2 linked regions of the Homo sapiens genome follow. The protein of the gene in region 1 purifies or fractionates together with the protein of each later gene. This does not show direct contact. Each region holds a gene or a part of one and is shown on either strand. Other genes may lie near its edges. The genes, in order: FBXO15 and UBA7.

Evidence for each region.
Region 2: the proteins of FBXO15 (region 1) and UBA7 purify together in Homo sapiens (affinity purification with western blotting, with the first as the bait; one study listed by BioGRID). This does not show direct contact.

Annotation. Positions count from the first base shown.
Region 1 is NC_000018.10:74,074,704-74,078,513, reverse strand, and holds part of FBXO15 (F-box only protein 15), read left to right. Parts: intron 1-3,810. UniProt on the Homo sapiens protein: Substrate-recognition component of the SCF (SKP1-CUL1-F-box protein)-type E3 ubiquitin ligase complex.
Region 2 is NC_000003.12:49,807,522-49,810,953, forward strand, and holds part of UBA7 (ubiquitin-like modifier-activating enzyme 7), read right to left. Parts: intron 3,312-3,432; coding exon 3,231-3,311; intron 3,152-3,230; coding exon 2,996-3,151; intron 2,908-2,995; coding exon 2,742-2,907; intron 2,663-2,741; coding exon 2,457-2,662; intron 2,359-2,456; coding exon 2,294-2,358; intron 2,205-2,293; coding exon 2,021-2,204; intron 1,944-2,020; coding exon 1,869-1,943; intron 1,639-1,868; coding exon 1,455-1,638; intron 948-1,454; coding exon 865-947; intron 592-864; coding exon 499-591; intron 407-498; coding exon 215-406; intron 1-214. UniProt on the Homo sapiens protein: E1-activating enzyme that catalyzes the covalent conjugation of the ubiquitin-like protein product of ISG15 to additional interferon stimulated proteins (ISGs) as well as other cellular proteins such as P53 in a process termed protein ISGylation.

The sequences.
Region 1 (3,810 bases):
GCTTCTAGAGGTGAGGGGCAGCTGGCCCGGGGAGGGGTGCGAGACCCACTGTGCCGCTGCGGCTGGTGCTGAGGCGGGCCTCTTCCTAGCTGGCTGTCCTGCCTGGGGTGGGCTAGCACCCGGGGACAGGAGGGACAGTGACTGGGGGGCATTGGAAAGGCTGCTGGGGCAGGTCGGGGGGGGGCCTTGAAACCCTCAGGAAAGAATTTGGATTTTGGTGTATCTGTGGATGTTGTTAAAGAGTTTGATGTGCCTATCGTGTGCTAGGCCATGTTTTAGGTTAGGAGGGAATTGGAGAATGCTGGACTTTGAGAACTAGGAGGGCTTCAGAGGAGAGTCAGCTCCCAGCTCTTGATCTGGCAGCAGAGGAGGTGGGAGAGCAGAAAGACTGAGACACCCACCGACGGCTTAGGGCTGTGAGCAGCGTCCTCACCAAGGAGCCCTTGTGCCCCACCGGCCGCTCCTTCCTGACTTCTGCCAGGGTTTCTCCTCCTCAACCTTCTCGCAGGTGATGGGACCCAGGGCTCCACCTCCTTCCTCCCATAGGATCTAACCACCATCTCTATGCTGGTGGGTTTGGTGAGGTTGTAAGTAACACAGTCAAGTGACTGCTAGCCCAGTGGCTAAGGTCGTGCAGGGTGGTGGGGTGTGGAAGATGGATGCACCATGCAGTCCCACCTGCTGTGTTATCTCAGAGGTGCTTAGACCTCAGAGCCTTCTCTCTAAAACGGCCACAGTGGTAATGCCCATTCCAGGAGGGCTCCGGCTGCCTGCCAAAGACAGAGCCATCTGCTGGCCCTCAGTATTGGCTTCAACTCCCCCATTCTCAGCCTCAGTGAGGCTGCAGTGTAGGGTGTTTTTTCTTATTCCCCACCTGCTCCCCACTCTGGTGTCCTCCTCGCAGCCCAGGCTCTGTGTGTGGTGGTCCCTGTCATGCAGGAAGCAGTGGGTGCTGTGGAACAGGCTGTGTGGGGCTGGTCGCTGCTGTTCCAGGACCACTGCAGCCGATTGCCTGGGAAAGGCATCAGGGAGCAAGGTCAGGTGTCTGAGGGGTTCCTGGGTGGTCTCACTGTGTAGCTCATCTGATGTGAGGGGCCTTAGGCTCTGGCGTGCACTCTCCCATCAGGGATTAGTGTGTTTCATGCTGGCTGCTTCTTCACCCATCTCTTCTTTCCTGGTGTTTGCTGCCCCTGATGCATTAGGGCTCCTGCTGTCCTACCTTAGTGTTTAATAACAACCAGCACCTCCATCACTACTCTTACCACCTCCCTCTCATTTTATCACACTCATTCATTCATTCAGCACATAGTGGTTGAGCTTCAGTGACTGTGTGCATATGCAGGTGGCCAGGGGCACGATGCTGAACCAAGCTGGCCTAAGTCCTGCCCTCTTGGTGCTTAGCATCCATCTCTACCTGCACTGGCCGGGCCGAGTCAGTTTCAGCACTGCAGCTGTATCAAGTTCTGCATTCAACACACTGGTGTTTCTGCCCATTGGGTACATGGTCAGTTGAGATGAGAGTATCAGGGAAACTTCCTCAAGGGACTGGTATTCGAACTGAATGCTGAGATGGACAAAGAGAAGATGGGAAGAGGATCTCTCAGCAGGGGAGCTTGGGTGGCTCTTTGTCAGCTGGGGGCATGGTGTGTTCAAGGGTGAAGGGTCAGTGTGGCTGGAGCACAGATGGCAAGATGTGTGCAATGAGGTGGGATGGGCGGATGAGGCCAGGTCAGGCCTTAATGGTAGCCGGAAGGAATTTGGTTCTTTCTTGAGAGCCGTGGAAAGTTGTCTCAGGGTGATATGCTCAGACTCATGTTTTGTAAAGGTTTGTCTTCTGAATATGGCGAATGAGTGGGGAGATCAGTTAGATGGCTGCCTCCTTAAAGGAAGAGCAGTCACTTGGTTTCCTAGTCTGCTTGGCATGCTATCACATATCACCATCAGCTGGGTGGCTTTTAAGCAATAGAAACTTACTTCTTACAGTTCTGGAGGCTGGAAGCACCAAGGTCAAAGCACCAGCAGATGGGTGTCTGGTGAGGGCCCTCTTCCTAGTTCCTAGAGGCACCTTCTAGCAGTGTCCTCACCTGGTAAAAGGAGTGAGACAGCTCTGTGGGCCTCTTTTATAAGGACCTCAGTCCTATTCATGAGAGCTCTGCCCCCGTGACCTAATCACCTCCTAGAGGCCGCACTGCCTAAACAGTCACATTGGTGATCAGATTTTAAGACACGGATTTTGGGACGCACAAACATTCAGACCATAGCACTTGGACTAGGGCAGTGGCAATGGAGATGGACAAAATTAAAGCGATTCGAAAGAGAGGTAAGAACTAACGGGATTGGGTGATGGTTGGCTCGTCAGGGCTAGGAGGGAGGCCCCTAGAAGGACGCCCACATTTCAGGCATGCACAGCCAGATGACTGATGATGGTTCCACCAGTCCCTGGGACGAGGAGTACCAGGAGAGCTTTGCTGGGAGGGTCCTGAGTTTGGGCATAGTCCTGCTGGACTTGAGGGACCGTTGAAAGATCCAGAAGTTGAGTACGCACTTGAATATTTAGGTCTTGAACTTAGAAAAGAAGTTCGGCCTGGAGATAAACTTTTGGGAATCACAGGCATGTTGGTGATAACTTAGGATGTGAATGTAGATGAGTTCCATTTATGGGGAGAGATTACATAGAGTGAAAATAGGGCCTAGGACCAAGCTGTAGGAACCTCAGCAATGGGAGTGGGTAGAGAGCTGCAGGGCTTGTGGGTTCTGGATGCATTTGGAGAGGTAGAATTACTCTTCACTGTTCTCTTGAAAAACTAAACACTGCTGAGAAGCAGACTGACAGATGGTCACTGGATTTAGTGGCCTTATCAAGAGATGTTCGGTCAGATGATGGAAAAAGGATACCAGGCCAGAGTGGTTTGATGAGTGAATGGGTATTAATGGACAAATCCAGCGGAGACAGCTCTTTGGAGAGGGTTGTCTGGGAAGCGAGGAAAGAGCAGGGGCCTGCGGGGCCCAGGGAGGCTGTTTCCCTCTCTCTGCCTCTCTAAGATGGGAGTTACTTGAATGTGTTAAAGACTAAAAGCTGATGGGAGGACAGAAGTAGTCACTTGAGAGGGACATCATGCCTTTGCAAGATGGGCTACGCTGCAGCAGGAGGTTACTGGGCCACACCCGGGAGGAGCAGATGAGAAACACATGTGAGGAGAGGTGGGCGCAGAGGAGCTGGGCTGTGGATCTGCAGTGGGAAGTTGAGGAAAACATCCTTCTCCCCTGTCTGTGAAGGCCGAGGTTCTCTGCAGAGATCACCCTCCTAGCAGGATGCAGAGGGCTGAGGGAGGGGATGAGGTGTTGTTCCATGAGGCGGAGAGGGAGCCACCCAGAGAGCCAGGGTGGGACCGTCAGGCCGAGCTGAGGATGGTGCAGCTGCATGGGCACCCAGCAGCTCTGCGTGCAGCCCTCCCGCTGTGCTTGGTGCTCAGGTCCAGACAGATAGAAAATAACTGCGCTCCTCTGGGGCTGGGGTTTTGCTGGACCTGGCCCTAAGGTGTGTTGCAAGGGGAGTGAGGGAGGTATGTGCATTGGCAAGAGTGTTATTCCAGCAAAGGCCAGTGAAATCTAAAGTGGAAAGGAAGAGGCGGGAGAAGGAAGGGCTGGCTAGTGGGTGGGCTAGGTCCATGGGCAGTGCTCTTCAGGCCTTTTTACATATCCACTGCGGTATGGGCATATACAGACCACACATTCATGTGCAATGAAAGCAGCGTTCATGAAATGACGTTTATGCTTAGTGTATGTAATGCATGCCGACTATGTTCTTTT
Region 2 (3,432 bases), on another chromosome or scaffold:
TGGAGGATTGGGGGTGGGGATGGCTGACGGCTGCTTCCTGTGTCTGACAGGTCCCAGCCTGGCTTCATAGCAGGAAGAGGGCTGGAGGGAGTCTTCAGGACTTCTGCACAGTCTGAGTTTCAGTGAGAGCCGGCAGCTAGATTGGGGCCTGTATGGGCAGGTGCAGGGGAAACCCAGGCCTAGTAGGGCTAAGGGTGGGGTATCATGGGCTCACCGTCTGGATGGCTGGGGCAAAAGGCATATAGCGGATGAGGTAGTTTTCAGCCAGATGTAGGTAGCTGTGGCGAAAGGCACTACGAGGCCGTGGCCCACTCACCACCTTATACAGCTCCAGGCCCAACAGGCCTGCCACAGCTGCTGTAGTGGTGGCAATGGCTGGGATAATCTGGCCCACAATTCGCTTGCTCTGCCAAGGACAAGAGATTTGGTCTGGGCCCAAGGCGTAGGGCCAGGGTTTGCCCTCCACCTCCAGGCCCAAGCCTCAAGGGGTGGGGTTACCTGGGCACGGTTGACCGGTGGAATCCCGTAGTTCTGACATCTCAGGCTAGCTGCCGCTACCACAAAGTCCACATGGAAGTTGCTGTCATCATCCTGTAAGGCCCAAGTCAAAGTAGTGTTAACACTGCAGCTGTGCCCCTCACCGTGGCCCACTGCGTGTCACTGCACAAGTCTCCACACAGTTCTGTCGGGGGGTTGCCCCACATCTCCTCTTGATCAGACAGGCTGAGGTTCAGGGAATGTGAGCTGCTTCCAGGGTCTTGCTGGGAGAATTCAGGCCAAGGGGCTCCAAAACTACCTTATTAGCTCCTGACCTTTCTCCACAAACTCCCCAGCCCCACTCCTCACTGCCACTTGGGCACCCACCTTCTCAAACATCAGAGGCTTCAGGGGAGGGCCCACACTCCAGACTTCCAGGGCTTTGTTCAGTTCCTTCTGCTGCTCAGGGCCTGTCAGGGGAGGGGATGTTGAGGCAGTCCTTAGCCCCTGTCTCCTGCACTCTTCTTGGAGCCCTGTGCCTATTCTTGGTCTTTGCCAAGCCTGTCACTTACTATTCCCTGATCAAATCAAGAAGCCCCCTTAATTAATGCTACAATCTCCCCTCTAGAAGCCCCAGTCTTCACCCATGTGTGCTCATGACCTCTGTGACCCTGTCCTCACCTGCAGGCCATAGCTAGACACTCCCCAGGAACCAATGGACTTTATTTATTTACTTATTTATTTTGCCAAGAATCTGCCACAAGAACTGGGATGTGGGGTAGGCAGCAGGGAGAAGACCTACTGAGGGACCAGAGGATAAGCCTGAAACTATGGAGGAGTGAGGTTAGGAGGCCTGAGAGGTAGCAAATTGGCTGTAGATCCCCTAGGCCCTATCTTCCTTCTGCAGCACAGGCTGAGGACAGGACAGGTTCAGGCCTTTGAAAGACAGCATGAGGGGCCAGGGCCAGGAGCCTCACCAAACTCAGCAGAAGCCGAAGCCAGCTCTAGATTACTAGCAAAGATGGGGGCCATCTGTTGGGGGTCAGGCTGTGGCAGCAGCTTCAGCAGCTCCCTGAGTGCAGTCCAGTCCTGTGAGCCAGGCAGCCCATGCATCTGGGCATACAGGTTGGCAGCTGCCAGTACGTAGAGGAGGTGTGTGTCCTGCAGCCAGACCAAGAGCAGGAACAGAGGCATGGGTGCATGGGGTGGGGGTCACTGTCCATTTGTGGATCTGTTTGAGTGCCTGCCTTTGCCTCACATGTAGACACCCATATATGCACAAGCATGGCTCTCTCTGGGCATCTGTGCATCTCTGCAGAATGCAGAAATGCCTACCTCTGCTCTGAGGGGCCACATCTCTATCTTGGAGCTCCCTACAGAATCCCACTCACTTGGTTGGTGTCAAACTCCAAGGGCTGGGGACACTGTTTGGGACCTGACCAGAAGGGAGTTCCATCCTCAAGCACCTAGGTAGGTAAGTAGAAGCTGCTGGGCTCAGTCTGGTCCCCCTGAGCCCCCAGCGTCCCAACCCCTAGCCACACACTTTATTAGGTGGGAAGTGCCTCAGCAGCTGTTTGATGCCATAATGAAAGCAGAGTTTCCAGTGGCCAAGAGCCCACGCCACACAGTCTTGCCAGTTCTGTGGACGCACTCTCAGGACCCCAAGCACTGGCTTCAGTAAGGTGAGTGTCTGTGGCTCATCCATGTCTGCCAGGGAAGTGTGTGCCCTGCAGAGAGAGGAGGAAGTGTGAGACTGAGTCCTGCAGACTCATGCTTGGAGCCCTGGACTCCCATCTGCCTCTGTTGGTGGCCTTACTGTTGGTGGTGGTTGATGGTCTCTGCAGACAGTCGGAAGAGTTCTTCAAACTCATGCCGGGCCCACTGTGGAGGAGGGAGGAAGAATGAGGTATCAGGTGGAGAACAGGTCTGCAGCTGAGGGCTGAGCTGGGTGGGGTGGGAGTCTCCAGGGTGCTTCCTACCTGCAGGGTGTGCTCGGCTGTGCTAGGGAAGTACCGCACGGTACAGACAGGGTAGGGGGCATCCTCAGAAGCTGCAGCTGAGGCAGGGGCTCTGTAGGCCTCAGTCACATGTGGCATGAATACTGTAGCACTGCCCCAGGTGCCCGATGTGCCTGCCTCCAGCAGTGGCTTCAGATAGTGGGTGCAACGAGCAGCCACATAGCGCCCTGGCAAGGGAGCAGTGGGTCAGAAGTGGGACTGGCACAGCTGTGGGCAAGGGACTGACCTCCGAAGTCAAGCACTCACGGGCCTGGAAACTGTCCAGGGCAGCAGCCACACCATCCACACGGGAGAAAAAGTTATCCCCATAGATGTGCTCTGTGGTGGGATCCAGTGGGTAGGTGAGCGGGATCACCTGTAAGTCTGGGTTCAGGCCCCGGGCAGCTGCTGCAGCCACCTCTGCCTTGGGTCTCTGGGAAGAAGGCAGGAAGATGTTGGGTGGGAAGCTGTATGGGAGGACGGTCTGGGATGCAGGAGTGTGGAGAGGGGTCAGCACTCACACCAACGTCCTGGGACCTGAAGAGGAACTGACGGCTGAGATTGGAGCGCTCTATGTGGTCCATGTCAACAACAGTCAAGCCCCCGCTGTTCCCGGCCCCCAGTCCCACTAGGGCAAAGACTTTGAGCAGCTCACAACCAATGGCACCAGCGCCCACCTGTTGGCAGGAACAGCCTTAGCCAGAGGGGCTGGGCTGGCTCTCCCAAAGGCACCCCCAGTCTCACCCCACAGCTCACCAGGAGGTAGTGCTGGCGTCTCAGTTTCTCCTGAAAACCAGCCCCAAACACTGCAATTTGCCCATCATAGCGGCTGCCTCTCTAGGGGACAGAGACGGGGTCAGTGATGGCTACTGGCCTGCATCTCCTTCTTATACTGAGTTTTCTGAATCAGGACCTGGAGGGCATTCCTCATGCTTCTCCCCTAGTCCTGATTTTGGAC